Regions from separate parts of the Homo sapiens genome. Here region 1 is linked to region 2. A link means that fine-mapping ties the variant in region 2 to the expression of a gene that starts in the linked region. Tissue or cell type: whole blood. Region 2 holds a variant in brackets; the other region holds the start of a gene. All regions are shown on one strand. Distances are between the middles of the regions.

The links. PIP is the estimated chance that this variant, and not a neighbour inherited with it, causes the effect.
Region 1: CLDN5 starts here. The variant in region 2 is fine-mapped to the expression of CLDN5 in whole blood (TOPMed, PIP above 0.99).

What each region holds. Positions count from the first base shown.
Region 1 is chr22:19,520,760-19,528,860 of GRCh38, reverse strand. It overlaps CLDN5 (claudin 5), which reads left to right and starts at 4,451. Exons shown (of 1, transcript NM_001363066.2): 1 at 4,451-5,834. The coding sequence starts at 4,606. The coding sequence ends at 5,262. RefSeq lists an enhancer at 5,836-6,768.
Region 2 is chr22:19,592,055-19,600,155 of GRCh38, reverse strand. No RefSeq gene overlaps it. Among named protein-coding and RNA genes, the nearest start is that of LINC00895, 29 kb to the right of the region's middle. RefSeq lists enhancers at 1,196-1,696, 1,697-2,197, 3,233-3,775. The variant A/G (reference allele first, on the strand shown) is at 4,104.

The DNA.
Region 1 (8,101 bases), 71 kb after region 2:
TGACCTGAGGTGATCCGCCCGCCTCGGCCTCCCAAAGTGCTGGGATTACAGGCCTGAGCCACTGCGCCCGGCCTTTCCTCTCCATGCTTTTAAGACTTTCTCTTTAGCACCAGTTTTACGAAATTTGGTTTATGATGTACTTTGGTGGACTTTTTTTTTTTTTTGAGATGGAGTCTTGCTGTGTTGCCCAGGATGGAGTGCAATGGCATGATCTCGGCTCACTGCAACCTCTGCCTCCCAGGTTCAAGGGATTCTCCCACCTCAGCTACCCGAGTAACGGATTACAGGTGCGTGCCACCACGCCCAGCTAATTTTAGTATTTTTAGTAGAGACGGGGTTTCACCGTGTTGGACAGGCTGGTCTCAAACTCCTGACCTCAAGTGATCCGCCCACCTCGGCCTCCTGAATGGAATTACAGGCGTGAGCCACTGCGCTTGGCCTGGCTTGCCATTCTATAGAACCCTTGACCCTTCGTGGATCACACCAGAGCTCCCTGCCCCCCACTCCCTCACCCGCTGGGGAAGTTAAAGCCACAGTGACCTCCAATTCTGACTAACAGCCAGCGATGACTACCCTGAGGGGTGCGGCTGAGGTTGGATGAGCTGTGAAGGCCCTGGGAGCCTGGGTGGATGGCACTCAGGAAAGGCAGAAGAGAACCGGGACTGGCATCGGCCTCCCCTGCAGCCTCGCAGCCTCCACCATTGGGGGGCTTCGTTACCAGTGAGGAACTAAGGCAGAGAGGCCACCTCACTAGTCCAGAAAGTTTCTTGCTTGCGGGAGCGAATCTGACTCCATGCCTGTGTTTAACCACAAAGAGTAACAACAATGCCCGCAAAACCGCCGAGTCTGGCACTGTCCACTCTGGATGCTGCTCACATCGTCACAGCCGCCCAGGGGCCCCACACAGGGTGCCTCGGGCACCTGGTGCAGTGGTCAGGGATGCAGGAGGACCCCAGCTGCTGCTCTCGGCCTGCAGGAGTACTGGCTTGTGTCAAGAAAGAGCACCAGGCCACACTGTGCTTGGAGGCTCTGCAAACATTTGCGGAAATAGAAGGACACATCCTTAACTGTTTCAAAACTGAAAGATAGAAGAAACGCTGTTCTTCACTTCCCCTGAAATCAAATCTGTTAACTAGGAGTTTCCCAAACCCAAATCCCCAGGAATCTTGAGCCTAAATTTAGCTTATCCTTGGAAGGTCACGGGATTACCCTGGGGCAGGGTCAGCCAGCAGCTGCTCAAGATAAACTTGGCTTTTCTGCAGACTCAGGCTCTTCTCACACACAATTAATGAGATCCTGCCATTCTTCCCCTGGGAAAGCAGAACAATGGCTGGGGGTGAGCAGGTGGCCTTGGCCAGTGCTCTGCCCCAAGGGCCCTTTACCAGAGATCAGGGGTTTGTGTCCCTGCCTAACCAGGACACCTCCGATCTCCACCTGCAGGCCCTGGACCACTGTGGCACTGTGGACACAAGGCCGCTTCTGCCCCTTGGACGCCGAGCCCCTTCCCACCTCTGGGATCTTGCACTGGCTATTGCTTCTGCTCTGCCTGGAACTTCTTCCCCGGATCCCTGTGAAATGTCACCTCTTCAGAGAGGCCTTCACCACTGTCTTTCCTGCCCAGTTCTTGGTTGATAGGTTCCTGTCAGCTCCTTCTGGGCAGGAGCTTCTTGTGCTGTGTGCTCTGCCTAGAGACAGTGCTTGCCACGAAGTAGGTGAGCAGACCCTCCATGAGTGGCAGGAAAGGTGGGTGCACCCTCATGCCCCTCCGGAGTCTGGCCTGGGCTACTCAGAGGCCAGCCTCCATCTGAGGTGGGTTTGTCTGGGGTGGCGTCAGCCCCTGCGGCCCTCTCTGGGCCTCTCTGCATTGGCATTGTTCCACTGCAGCCTGGGGCCTCGACCAACATAGTGGGGTCAGGGTAGAAACCAGATTGTGAAAGGTGAAGCCTGAGACTCCTCTGCCACGTCCCTGAGATGCTGTGAGGCTGCCGCCAAAGAAACATGAGCTTGCTGGGGCCACCCTAGGGTGACAGCTAGGAGAGAAGAAAAACAGGCAGCCAGGTGAGAAGGGAGAGCCTTGGGCTGGCTGCAGCTCCAAGCTGGCTAGAGGGCAACAGGCAGCCTCCTGTGCAGGACAGACGCATGAAGACAGCCACCCTGTGGAGGTTATTCCTGGATACTAGGTGGGAAAGTCGGCAAGCAAAAGGACAGGTCCAGCTCAAGCTTCTAAAAGCAATGCTGGGGGACGGTGCAGCAAGGTGTTCCTGGAAATGACCTCGGCAACACATCTTAGAAGATGAGCAGGACCCAACCTGACAGATACACGCTGCGGGCAGAAGAGGCCAAGGTAAGAGACGGCCCATGTGAGGCCCATAGGCAGGTAAGTCTCCTGGGGCAGAGTGTGTGCTCAGGGCCGCACCAAGACTGGTGGCTGGACTGGCCAGTCCTAGCGCATGCAGGTACACATCAATCCAGCTGCTCTGGGAGTCGGCTCTTCGTCCATGGGCAATGTGAGCCATGGAGGGTCTTAGGTAGGGTGAGGCCCAGGAGAGGGGCCTGGTGGGGTGGGTGGCCTAGCTGGGCAAGGGCAGGTCCCTGATGACCTGAGGAGGCCGCAGCAGTCATCCCAGGAAGATGGTGGCATGGAAGGGCTGGGAGTAGGGGGATCTGGGGAAGTTCCCTGGGCTTGGGTTAGGGGGTAGTAAGAGTGAGAGGGTGGGTGGGTCAGCTGTACCCCTGGAGTACACAGAGGAGGAGATGTCCAGGAGGGTCTGTAGAGGAAGGGGCATGGCCCATGGGTCTGCAGCAGGAGGAAGGCAGTGACTAAAGTGATAGCTGGGAGAAGGCAGTGGTCCTCAGAGCCATACCTGGTGGGGAGAGGCCACGTGGGGCTGAGCAAAGAGGGTATGATTTCCTTCCAGCCTCAGGGCTGGGCACACTTGCCTTCAGAACCTCCCCACACTAGGTGAGCCAGACGCTGGCCTTATCTCATTTACCATCTCAGAGCCATCTGAAGGGGGAGAAGGGAACCGGGCCCCAGGAGGGAGAAAGTCATCAAACCTCCCACATCTGTGACCAGCCTCAGTGCCATACTTTTTCTATGGAGGGCCCTGTCCAATGGAACTGAGCACAGACCAGATAAAAGAACTGGGCACCCAGTGGCCTCAGTCCAGGGCCTGGAGTTCAAACTTTACTGGAAACAAAGGGGCCGAGAGAGACTGGGGAAAGAACTACTAGAAAGGGGCTGGTGCCCCCATGGGGCTGTGGGTTTTGGAGCCGCGTGCCCCCACCTGAGCCTCAGGGGGCCCGGAGTGTCCACACCAGTGGACCTTTCGAGAAATGGCTGGGCCATTGTGCAGAAGAATGCCCGGAAATCCCGCGCCTCCCTCCTCCAGCAAGGATGGGGGCTCTTCCTCCTGGCCAGGAAACTCCAAGTTGGCTTCCGGAGGGTGGCCTGGGGGCTGGGGTGCCAGGGACACCATCGCCACTGGTGGGAGGGCAGGGCACAGCCCCTCCGTGTCCCTTTGTCTCTCCTGTCTGAAGGCCAGAGCAGGCTGCTAGGCCTGGGGCCACCACTGCCCCTGGGTGCTACACCCAGTGTGCTGGGTCACTGGGAACTTCCTGAAGTGGTGTCACCTGAACTGGGCCCCCAAGGATGGGGTGCGGGCAGTACCGCAGGAAGAGGAGCAGCCCCTGTGAAGATTGAGAGGTCTGGGAAGCCCCTGCGGCTTGGGAGAGTGGGGGTCGCCAGGCAGGGGGAAAGCCCCTGTGCCACCGCTTTTTGCCAGAGACTCAGGCTCCAGAGAGGCAGTGAGTGGCATGGGGGGTGAGGCTGGGGCCCTGGGCCTGACCTCCACACGCCTGCCTGGCCTCTCTGTTTGCCATGGGATGAGAGAGACAGTGCTGGGACTCAGAGCGGGGCTGGAGAGTGAGAGTGCGAGAAAGGGCCTGGGTGGGGCTTGGACCCCGGGGCGGGCTTTCTGGAGAGCCCCCCTACGAGGGCCTCTACGGCGGTGACGGGGTGGGGGGCTTCTGCAAACCTTGGTCAGGGAAGTGGAGCTGGCTCGAGTGGAAGAGACCACCCGGCTCAGTCGGGGATGTGGGAGTGGACTGGGTGGTGCAGACTGGGGGTCGAGCGCCTTCTGAAGTGACGGGGCCGGGACGCGCAGGGAGGCGGCCCAAGAAGCGCGCCCTAGGCCAGCCCAGAATGCGCTCGGCCGCGACTAGGACAACGGCGGGTGGGGCTGGGGGCGGCTGCCGGGCGGGGAGCGGTCCCGCGCCCTCAGCTACCCCTCAAGAGCCGTTGTTTCCCTAACTTCAGCTGCCAGAGGCTCTGTGATTGGCTGCGGCACGATGACCCGCGCACGGATTGGCTGCTTCGGGCCGGGGGGCCGGGCCCGGGGGACAGAATCCGCCCCCGAACCTTCAAAGAGGGTACCCCCCGGCAGGAGCTGGCAGACCCAGGAGGTGCGACAGACCCGCGGGGCAAACGGACTGGGGCCAAGAGCCGGGAGCGCGGGCGCAAAGGCACCAGGGCCCGCCCAGGGCGCCGCGCAGCACGGCCTTGGGGGTTCTGCGGGCCTTCGGGTGCGCGTCTCGCCTCTAGCCATGGGGTCCGCAGCGTTGGAGATCCTGGGCCTGGTGCTGTGCCTGGTGGGCTGGGGGGGTCTGATCCTGGCGTGCGGGCTGCCCATGTGGCAGGTGACCGCCTTCCTGGACCACAACATCGTGACGGCGCAGACCACCTGGAAGGGGCTGTGGATGTCGTGCGTGGTGCAGAGCACCGGGCACATGCAGTGCAAAGTGTACGACTCGGTGCTGGCTCTGAGCACCGAGGTGCAGGCGGCGCGGGCGCTCACCGTGAGCGCCGTGCTGCTGGCGTTCGTTGCGCTCTTCGTGACCCTGGCGGGCGCGCAGTGCACCACCTGCGTGGCCCCGGGCCCGGCCAAGGCGCGTGTGGCCCTCACGGGAGGCGTGCTCTACCTGTTTTGCGGGCTGCTGGCGCTCGTGCCACTCTGCTGGTTCGCCAACATTGTCGTCCGCGAGTTTTACGACCCGTCTGTGCCCGTGTCGCAGAAGTACGAGCTGGGCGCAGCGCTGTACATCGGCTGGGCGGCCACCGCGCTGCTCATGGTAGGCGGCTGCCTCTTGTGCTGCGGCGCCTGGGTCTGCACCGGCCGTCCCGACCTCAGCTTCCCCGTGAAGTACTCAGCGCCGCGGCGGCCCACGGCCACCGGCGACTACGACAAGAAGAACTACGTCTGAGGGCGCTGGGCACGGCCGGGCCCCTCCTGCCAGCCACGCCTGCGAGGCGTTGGATAAGCCTGGGGAGCCCCGCATGGACCGCGGCTTCCGCCGGGTAGCGCGGCGCGCAGGCTCCTCGGAACGTCCGGCTCTGCGCCCCGACGCGGCTCCTGGATCCGCTCCTGCCTGCGCCCGCAGCTGACCTTCTCCTGCCACTAGCCCGGCCCTGCCCTTAACAGACGGAATGAAGTTTCCTTTTCTGTGCGCGGCGCTGTTTCCATAGGCAGAGCGGGTGTCAGACTGAGGATTTCGCTTCCCCTCCAAGACGCTGGGGGTCTTGGCTGCTGCCTTACTTCCCAGAGGCTCCTGCTGACTTCGGAGGGGCGGATGCAGAGCCCAGGGCCCCCACCGGAAGATGTGTACAGCTGGTCTTTACTCCATCGGCAGGGCCCGAGCCCAGGGACCAGTGACTTGGCCTGGACCTCCCGGTCTCACTCCAGCATCTCCCCAGGCAAGGCTTGTGGGCACCGGAGCTTGAGAGAGGGCGGGAGTGGGAAGGCTAAGAATCTGCTTAGTAAATGGTTTGAACTCTCTCCCACCTGTGTCCTGTTCTCTGTCCAGCCATCTTCCGTGTCCAGCAGCCCCATTCATCACCCACCAGCCCCGCCCTCCCAAGGACTCCTGTGGAGACCTCCTCCCAGGGCTGGAGGCTGGGGCTCTTTTCCCCATCCTCCCTGCCACCTTCCCACCAGGTGGGAGACACAGCCACCACTTACTACAGCCCAGAAAGGCGGGATCTGCGGTCAGAAGAGCTGCTGCGTCATGGGGCCCTGGGGCCCGGGATGGGACAGGGGCGGGGGCAGCGGCAGACCCCAGCAGAAGATGCGGGGTGAAGCGCCCTCAACACAGGCTGGTGAGTGGGGGTCCTGCGGTGTGGGAAGTGCTGGGGGTGAGCAGCCAGGCCGCTGGCTTCTCCCAGAAAGGGCCAAGCCCCACACAGCACAGGGTGAGGTTTTCCACTGCCCTCTCAGGGCTTGCCTAGTCCCAAGCCCCATCAAGTGGCCACAGAGGTCTGTAGAATCCCCGACCAGGCCCTTTCCAATGGTGGGTGGGGCAGGAACAGGGGTGAATGCAGGACACGCCGGTCAACAGTAGGGTTGCCATGGGAGGAGGTGCTGGCAGCTGGTTGCCTGGAGTACCACAGCTTGGCTCTAGCCCCTCGTCCTGGCTCCTCTGCCAGTCCCAGCGCAGCTCCCTACAGAGCCTGTACCCACCCTGCTGGCCTGGCAGCCTGCCCAGAATGGTGCTCACAACCAGCACCTGTGCCAGCCCCTGCTGGGGGCACTCTGGGTAACCTTCCTCCTCCAGGGGCTGTGTGGCCTGGGAGTCAGTGCTGGCCCCTGCCAGGCACCTCGGAATGGGGGTGTCTAGAGCCATCTAACATAGCCACTGAGAGCTCACTGTTTTTAGCCTTGTTCTAGGCACTTTGAATTAACACATTTTTGACATTTGACATAAAGCTAGAAGCAGAAGAGAGCAGCTGATGAAGGGGGCATGCTGCAGGGAAGAGCTCTAAGCCCAGCCGGAAGGGAGACTTGGTATCTGCCCCAAACTGGACTTGGGGGCCCTGCCCAGAAATGTCTGGGCCACATCCAGTGGCAGGGAGTCTCCTAGGTCTGGCCAGGCTACCATCATGGAGCAGTGGGAGAACCCCAAGAATGCAGGCTCAGAGTGGCTTAGGGCAGCTGCTGGAATGTGTGGCAGCTTCCTGGGAGCTGCTGTGGAACCAGCCGGTGGGATGAGTTACAGGGAGAGGGGCCCCACGGTGCAGAGGTCCTCAGCAGGCCTGACCTGTACCCCACCTGGGCCTGTACAACAGGGACCAAGAATAGTCCCCAAGCTTGGGAGTGTGTGATCCCAGAGCTGTGGCCCTGGGCAGAGCCAAAAACAATGGTCCTTACACTCTTGCACCTGGCCACCGGGACTGGGTAGTACCAGGTCTGGTGTGTTTGGTCAGAAGCTGAGGCCCAAGGCTGCCTGGGAGGGCATTCCTAAGAAAGCCTTTTCCTAAGAAAGGACAGGCACGGGGCTGGGCACGGTGGCTCACGCCTGTAATCCCAGCACTTTGGAAGGCCGACGTGGGCGGATCACAGGGTCAGGACATCAAGACCATTCTGGCCAACGTGGTGACACCCGTCTGTACTAAAAATACAAAAATTAGCTGGGCGTGGTGGTGTGTGCCTGTAATCCCAGCTACTCGGGAGGCTGAGACAGGAGAACCACTTGAACTCGGGAGGCAGAGGTTGCAGTGTGCCGAGATCGCACCAACTGCACTCTAGTCTGGTGACAGAGCGAGACTCTGTCTCAAAAAAAGGAAAGAAAGGGCATGGAAAGGAAGCTGCACAGCCTTTGAATTTTCCCAAATGGCCAGGGTAGGCAGCTCAAGGGTCCCGGGAAGCTGTGCAAACCACCAGAGGTGAGGGGAGGGGCCCAGCCTCCAGTCCAGCTCTCACCCTTTTGTGCCCACTGCCCTTTGCCAAGGGCTGCACCAAGACCAGCCCCACCTACCTGTGTGCTCTTTTCCAGGCCACTCTTTCTGAGCTTTTCCCCACTGACTTAAAACCTACCCAAATCACTCCTGCCTTCAAAGACCTGGAAAAGAGTGCTGGATGGTGAGACCCACAGGTGGAGGGATGGCTGAGAGGGTGGACTTGCTATGTGGCTGAGGCCAGGTGGACCAGAGGAAGTGGTAGGTGGACAGAGCCAGGTGCTGGCTGGCACCACCAGGCAGTGGCCGGTGCAGGTGCTATGAGGAGGCGGGGATGCCGAGGGGTCCTGACCTCTGTCCACTGCCACCCGG
Region 2 (8,101 bases):
ATTCAGTAAACACAAAACAAAAGGTACTAAATGGCAAGAACTGCATGCAGGGGGCTTTTGGGACAGTGCCCAGGACACAGGAGCTCAATCAACGTCAGCTGTGACAGTGGTGCAGATGACTAACGTCTGACAGATCTTCTTTCTTTAGAAAAGAACAGCTGTCTTCAGACAGGGCTCCACCCAGAGCTGGGCAACAGGTGACCACTGCCCTGAACATCCCTACGCAGCCCACCCAGCCCTACCCAGCTCCAAGAGGAGCAAGGGTCCAGCCAGACCTGCTCGGACAAGGCCTCATGGGGCCACCTCTGGATCCCGGGCACACCTGCAGGGATAGAGCCACAGGAAGTGGGGGCCGAACTGAAGCTCCACTTCTAGAGTGACCTTGAGGGCAGCAGTGCTCAGGCCAGCTCCTGAGACAGCCATGGGGAGTGGGGAGGTGGTGTTCAATGGGAACAGAGTTTCAGCCTCGGAAGATGACGACGTTCTGGAGATGGTGATGGTGCTGGCTGCTCAACACTGTGAATGTCCTTAATGCACTTAAAAATGGTTAAAGTGGGGCCAGGTGCGGTGGCTCACACCTGTAATTCCAGAACTTTAGGAGACCGAGATGTGTGGATCACTTGAAGTCAGAAGTTCAAGAACAGCCTGGCCAACATGGTGTTGGTACTAAAAAATACAAAAAAAATCAGCCAAGCATGGGGCGCATGCCTATAGTCCCAGCTACTAGGGAAGCTGAGGTAGGAGAATCACTTGAACCCGGGAGGTGGAGATTGCAGTGAGTCGAGATTGTGCCACTGCACACCAGCCTGGGTGACAGAGTCTCCATCTCAAAAAAAAAAAAAATTAAAGTGGGCCAGGCACAGTGGCTCACGTGTGTAATTCCAGCACTTTGGGAGTCCCAGCCTGGAGGATAGTTTGAGGTCAGAAGTTTGGACTAGCCTGGGCAACATAGCCAGACCCTATCTCTACAAACAATTTTTTTTCAAAATCAGTCAGGTACTGTGGCTCACACCTGTAGTCTCAGCTACTTGGGAGGATCACTTGAGCCCAGAAGGCGAGCTGTGCTTGCTCCACTGCACTCCAGCCTGGGCAACAAAGCGAGACCCTGTCTCAAACAAACAAACAAACAAACAAACAAAACATGATTAAAGTAGTGAATGTTGTATGTATTTTACTGTAATGTGTTTAAGAGGGAAAAATCACCTTGGGGAAAGAAAGGAGTACCCAGGAGCACTTCCAAGGTTATACTTAGGTTTTTGCTTCCTAAGCCAGGAAACGTAACTTTGCATTTGATTTATTCTGTACCCATCTTATCAGCACTTTCAGAGAAATAAGAACAGGGAATTGGAGCTCTCACAATAACTGGACAAAGACGGGCAAGAGATTAGAGAGCCCCAGTGCCTGCTGCCACCTCCTGATTCACTTCCCAGGGCGTGAGTGGGCCCTGCCCACACTGTGGTGAGGCCCTCACCCCGCCCTTCCTGGGATGAGGACACAGCCAGCCCTCGCTTGTGATCGATGCATGCAGGCTGCAGCTTTCACCCGGGGGTCACAGCCTCACTCCAACTCACATCAGGCCACATGGCAGCCCCATCGAGTCTTTGGGCCCTGCTGCAGAGGCAGGTGCCATGCCTGCACTGCACATCCAGGTGTGTTGTTGAGCAACCCCCTCCAGACCTTGATGTCATCCTCCTGGGCCCCTCCTCCAAGTCTTGTGCAACCCAGTGGTGTGATGTTTGTGTCCTGCACCCCAGGTCCTGACTGGCACACACCCTTCTCAGCTGGGTTAGCTCCTCCGTGTCTTTCAGGTGCCTGCACCCCAGCAGCAGAGAACCAACTGCATGGTAGCCATGTTCATGCAATCCACTCTCTGTTCCTGGATGCCAGCATCTGGCACCCCGTCCCAGCACACAACAGGATGCATGGATGGTGGCCTGGCGTCATGGACCTGGGGAGACAAGGCAGCCCAGCAGCCCCTGCAGAGCCTCAGGGAACTGTTCCTAAAACAAGTGAACTTGCTTTGGGAATCCAGGAACACCTTTGCTGGAACAATCCAGCCCTTGGGACACCCTAATTTGAAGCCCCCACCACCACCCAGGGGTGCAGCTTTGGCGAGGGGCCGGTCAGGAACAGCTGCTAATCTAGGTGGGGTTTCCTAAGCCCAATTCACCTGCCAGAAAATCAAGCCCTAAATAAGTAATTTGGTTTCCCCTTAGTTTTCTTTCCCTCCCACTGCCCTTTACAACAACCTGCCAGTTTAAGCCAAGGAACAAAGATAGAGACATCCTCTGAGCCCCACCTGCCATTTGTGATAAACATTTCAGAGAATGAGTTAAGCAGTGCTGGAGAAAACAGGAAAAATAAACTCTGAGTCTCTACATAAATATATATTCTATGAAAACCTAAACTTAATCCACCACCAGCACAAGGCAAAGCAAAAGGGCACACACAGCTCTGCCGCCACTACAGAGAAAAAGATCTCTACATGCTGTTCCGCGCGCTCCTGTACAATGCAGAGCTTTGAACTGTTTATAACAGAACACGACAGAGGCACAGTCACAAGAACAGTGATTCTGCCCTTTGAAGCTGCCTGCAGTCAAGTATTACACAGGCAGGAAGTAGAAATCTGTGCTTTGATTTGTTTAAAGTAAATTAAACATAACTGGAAACCATATTTCCTCTCATTCAGAGGAAGTTACAAAAGGTACAGAGGACCAAGAATATCAGGTTCTCATGCAAACGATGAGGTCGGTTCTTCCAAAGCAAAAAAAAAAAAAAAAAAAAAAACAAATACTGGCCTTTAACATACATTCGAAGACCTCACATGTGTTCATTTTGAAGAGATTACCGCTGTGGAAAACAATTTGGAAAAAACTGTTTCAGGTCAAAGTGTAAGTCGTTCAAATAAATGTGCGTCTACGCTTTGGCATCGAGCATTTTTATTTTTTCAAATTCAAGCCTGTGGTCCCTTTGAGCCATTCTTTTCTCCACTGGACTTAGCCATTTTGAAACCTGCCCAGGGAGGAAACGACTCAGGCTCCCTGCAGAGGCAGCCCCATGGGGGCAAGAGGCAGCAACACAGCCTGGGGCCAGGCTCCAGGGCTGCTCTGCAGGGGACGCTGCCTGGGCAGCTGAGAGGCAGTGAGGAGTGAGAGAGAGAGGCCCAAGACCCGGGCACATTGGCCTGCCTGGGAGGACCTAGCCAGTCCCTGCTGGTGCCTCAGATCTGCTGTAGCAGGGGCTCGGCCTGAGCACCCCCGGCCTCTGCCCACCTCGCAGGGCATCATGGGAAGCAGGCATGATGTGCACGCTCTCCGGGCCCTCCAAGTCATGGCCATGGCTCTCCATTAACACAACCACGTGCCCGAGGGCTGAGCCCCAGCAGCAGAGGGTGGTGGGAAGGGCCGGGGCTCAAAGGCCAGGGGTCCCACTCGCTGGCGGCAGGAACCCAGCCTCAGTTCCCCTGTCCGTAAAATGGGGATGATAGATCTTACTTTAAAGAGTTGAGGCCGGGCGCGGTAGCTCAAGCCTGTAATCCCAGCAGTTTGGGAGGCTGAGGTGGGCGGATTACGAGGTCAGGAAATCGAGACCATCCTGGCTAAGACAGTGATACCCCGTCTCTACTAAAAATACAAAAAAAATTAGCCAGGCATGGTGACGGGCGCCTGTAGTCCCAGCTACTCAGGAGGCTGAGGCAGGAGGATGGCGTGAACCCGGGAGGTGGAGCTTGCAGTGCGCCGAGATTGTGCCACTGCACTCTAGCCTGGGCAACAGAGCGAGACTCTGTCTCAAAAAAAAAAAAAAAAAAGAGTTGAGAGGCCGGGCCTGGTAGCTCATGCCTGTAATCTCAGCATGATTTGGGAGGCTGAGACAGGAGGATCACTTAGGCCCAGTAGTTCAACACCAGCCTGGGCAAGATAGTGAGACCCTGTCTCTACAAAAAATTTTAAAAATTAGCCAGGCATGGTGGTGCATGCCTATGATCCCAAATACCTGGGAGGCTGAGGTGGGAGGACTGCTTGAGCTCGGGAGATTGAGACTGCAGTGAGCCAAGATTGTGCCACTGCACTCCGGCCTGGGCAACAAAGCCAGACCATGTCTCA[A/G]AAAAAACAAGCAGCTAAGAAGGAAAACTGTATGGCTGTTTGTTGGCATGACCCCCATCCCTCCATGTGCAGCAGAGGGTGACACCAGGCTGATGTGCAGCACCATTGTGTCTCCACCCTGCTCTCCCATTCTTCTGCATTTCTTTACCTCCCTGAAATCCCTTTTCCGGCCTGGGCCATCTTGTGCTCAAAGAAGCACCTGACAGCATGTGCCAGCTCCTTCCCCAGATACGTTCCCCATTGTGCAGACGTGAGCTTCCCCGCCTTTAGGTCCCTCTCTTAATCCTGTCTCTCTCCTATTCCAGAGTCAGGACCCCAGCTTTCTCCTCCATCTTCCCATCTCCCTGGGGAAGCTCACATCTTCCTACGTCCTCCATTCCAACTCTAAGTCTACACCTCCCAAAACGGTGTCTCTGGGCTCCAGAACTCCTCCTTGAGTCTCAGACCCTCTGAACCAAGAACTTCATCCCGAAACAATCCATCCTCCACTAAACTGGCCTCACACTGTCAAAAGGCAATCTACCACAGCCATGTGGGGCGATTTCTGTGGCCTGCCTGTCTGTCCATTGATCTATCTGTCTATGCCTTCTCCAACACCACCATGTCTGTATGACCGTAGCTTTGTAGTAAGTCTTCAAATCAGATAGTGTGTGTCCTCCAACCATATTCTTCTCTAGAGTAGTGTCTATGGTAGCTTCCTGCCTTTCTCTGTGAATTTTAGAGTCCGCTTGTCGATTTCTACCAAAAAACCTGCAGAGATTTTCACTGGGACTTAGTTTAATTTCTAGATCAGTGTGGGAGAACTGACATCTTGTAAACCTTGGAATATTGACTATTCCAACACAAGAACACAATATACCTCTCCATTTATTTAGGAATTCTTTGATTTTTTTATCAGCATTTTATAGCTTTTTATATATCTTTTTCTTTCTTCTTTTTTTTTTTTTTTGAGACAGAGTCTCGCTCTGTCACCCAGGCTGGAGTGCAATGGTGCGATCTCAGCTCATTGCAACCTCCACCTCCTGGATTCAAGCGATGCTCTTGTCTCAGCCTTCTGAGTAGCTGGGATTACAGGCACCGGCCATCATGCCCTGCTAATTTTTGTATTTTTGTAGAGATGGGGTTTCACCATATTGGCCAGGTTGGTCTTGAACTCCTGACCTCAAGTGATCCGCCCGCCTCGGCCTCCCAAAGTGCTGGGATTACAGGTGTGAGCCACTGTGCCTGGCCTCTTTCTTCCTTGTTGGTATAAAGATGGGCTCCTGCTATGCTGCCCAGGCTGGTCTTGAACTCCTGGGTTCAAGTAATCCTCCTGCCTCAGCCTCTCACAGTGCTGGGATCACAGGCATAAGCCACTGCACCGGCCAAGTTTTATTGTTTTCAGCATGTAGCTCTTGCATATATTTTATAGGATTCATGACCAAATTTGTGTTTTGGTGCTGTCATAAATGGACATGTTTATTTCAATTTTCAGTGGTTTGCTAGTAGATATATTTCCTTGTGAGTTTCGGTAGCTTTTCTGTAGATTCCATCGGATTTTCTACACTGAAAATCCTATCATCTGGGAATAAAGATGGTTTTGTTTATTCCTCTCCAATCTGTATGCCTTTCCTTTTTCTCACCTTTTGCCCTTGCTACAACCTCCAGTACAATGGTGAATAGAAATGATGGGGTCAGACAACCTGGCCTTGCTCTGGCCCTTAGGGGAAAAGTATTCGGTCTTTCACCCTTAGGCATGCTGCTAGTTGTAGGGCATTTGTAGATGCCTTTATCACATTAAGGAAATTCCCTTTAATTCCCGGCTTCCTGTGTTTTGGTCACACATGGGTGTTGGATGTTGTTAAATGCCGTTTCTGGATCTATTGAGCCGATCATAAATGCTTCCTTCTTGAGTTGGCTGATAGGAAGAATTGTGTTGATTGACTTTCGAATGTTGAACTAACCATTTACTCCTGGGATACACTCTACTTGATTATGGTGTATAATCCTTTTTGTACATGGCTGAGTCATATTTGGTAATATTTTGTTGAAGATTTTCACATTTGTGTTCATGAAGGACCTTGATCTATAGTTTTCTTTTCTTCCAAGCCTGGTTAAGCAGCAAAGTCACTGGCAGACTAGTTTGATTTTTTTGAGGCAGGGCAGATGAGCCCTAAAGTGGGGCTTAGCCCTCAAGAGTTCTTGGCCTCACCCAGGAAAGAATTCAAGAGCAAGCTGGTGGTAGGAGAAACAGCTTTTACTGAAGCAGCAGTGTTGCAGCTCCGTGACTGCTCCTGCAGAGCAGGGGGACCCCATAGGCAGAGAGTAGCAGCTCAGGGCAGCTTTGCAGGCATACTTATACCTACTTTTAATTACATGCAGATTAACGAGTGGTTTATGCAGAAATTTCTAGGGAAGCAGTAGGAACTCCTGGGTTGTCCGGTCATTGCCATGGAAAGGAGAGGTCAATTCTGGGTGTTGCCATGGCAATGGTAAACTGACATGGCACACTGGTGGGTGTATCTTAGGGAAAGCTGCTTCTGCCCCCTCCCTGTTTAGCTAGGCCTCAATTTGGTCCCTTGCATGAGCCAAGCCTCCAGATTGGGGCCCGCCTCCAACCTCACTTTGAAGCCTTGTTTTAAGCTCTGCAGGGGAGGGTCTAAGACACCCTTACTCTAGAGCTTATTTGCTCCACTACTAAGGTGGGGCTCTTCAGGGGTCTCTAGGGCATCCCGGGAGTTCAGTGAGAGCCATCCACTGAGTCTGGCTGCCACCCGAGCATCTCCCAGAACAGGTGAACTCTTGGACTCAGCTGCCTTTCTGCTCCTGGTCACTCGTTCTTTCCTGTCTCCACGACGTTGCACACCGCACACACACAGCTTAGGATCTCCCAATGCTCGGGGCAACCCTGAGGATTACTGGAGCCCCCTCTCTGCAGTGTTCCCATCCCTCCAGGACTCAGCCCACAAACCACAGCTGTTCAGAGCCCCCCATCTCCGCTCCTCAATGCAGCCAAGCCACTCGCACTGCTTGATGTGCATGAAGCACCCCCGACCCCACCAAGGCAGAAACCCAGGGCAGCTGCGGCGCCTTGCCATCTCATTTCTGTAGACTCTGGGGTCACAGCTCTGCATGGCCTGTTTCTCAACACCTGAAAACAGTTGATTCAGACATTTTGTCCAGGTTTCCAGCTGCTTAGGGTAGCGGAGTATGTGCACCATAGCTAACCCACCTTGTTGTTGATGACGTGACCTTGGAATAGTCCACACCAGGCCAGGCCAGCCAAGCCCCTGTACCTGACCAACCTCATGGCAGATACCACCCTCAAGTAGCCATTTGTCCAGCCCCAAGAGTGGCCCTCACTAAAGCAGCTTCCAAAATGTTAATGCCAGGACATTTCTTGTGGCGGAATTCTGATAGAAGAGGGACGGTGGAGGAGGGCAGCACCCACTCTCAAATGCTGTGGCATGAACTGCATGGAAGACAAATTATGAACAGTGATTTTTTACAAATTGCATAAAACCAAGAAGAGTTAAACAAAATTCACGATAGTGAAAATTTGGGTAAAATTAAATACCAGTCAGAGAGGAATGTCTCTTCTCTATAATATATTACAGTATGTTAACCTGACAGATTACTATTTGGCTGTCAAAAATAAATAATGTGGGCACAGTGGCTCATGTCTATAATCCCAGGACTGTGGAAGCTGAGGCAGGAGGGTCCCTTGAGGCCAAGAGTTCAAGACCAGTCTGGGCAACATAGCGAGACTCCATCTCTACAAAAAATGTAAAAATTAGCCGAGCATGATGGTACACACCTGTGGTCCCAGCTACTCAGGGAGCTGAGGCAGAAGGATGGCTTGAGCCTGGGAGGTTGAGGCTGCAGTGAGCTATGATTGTACCACTGCACTGCAGCCTGGGTGACAGAGTGAGACCCTGTCTCAAATAATAATAATAATAAATAATGTGATATGAAAGAGATGTTTACAAACAAAACTGAGAAGAAAGAACCTAAATTGT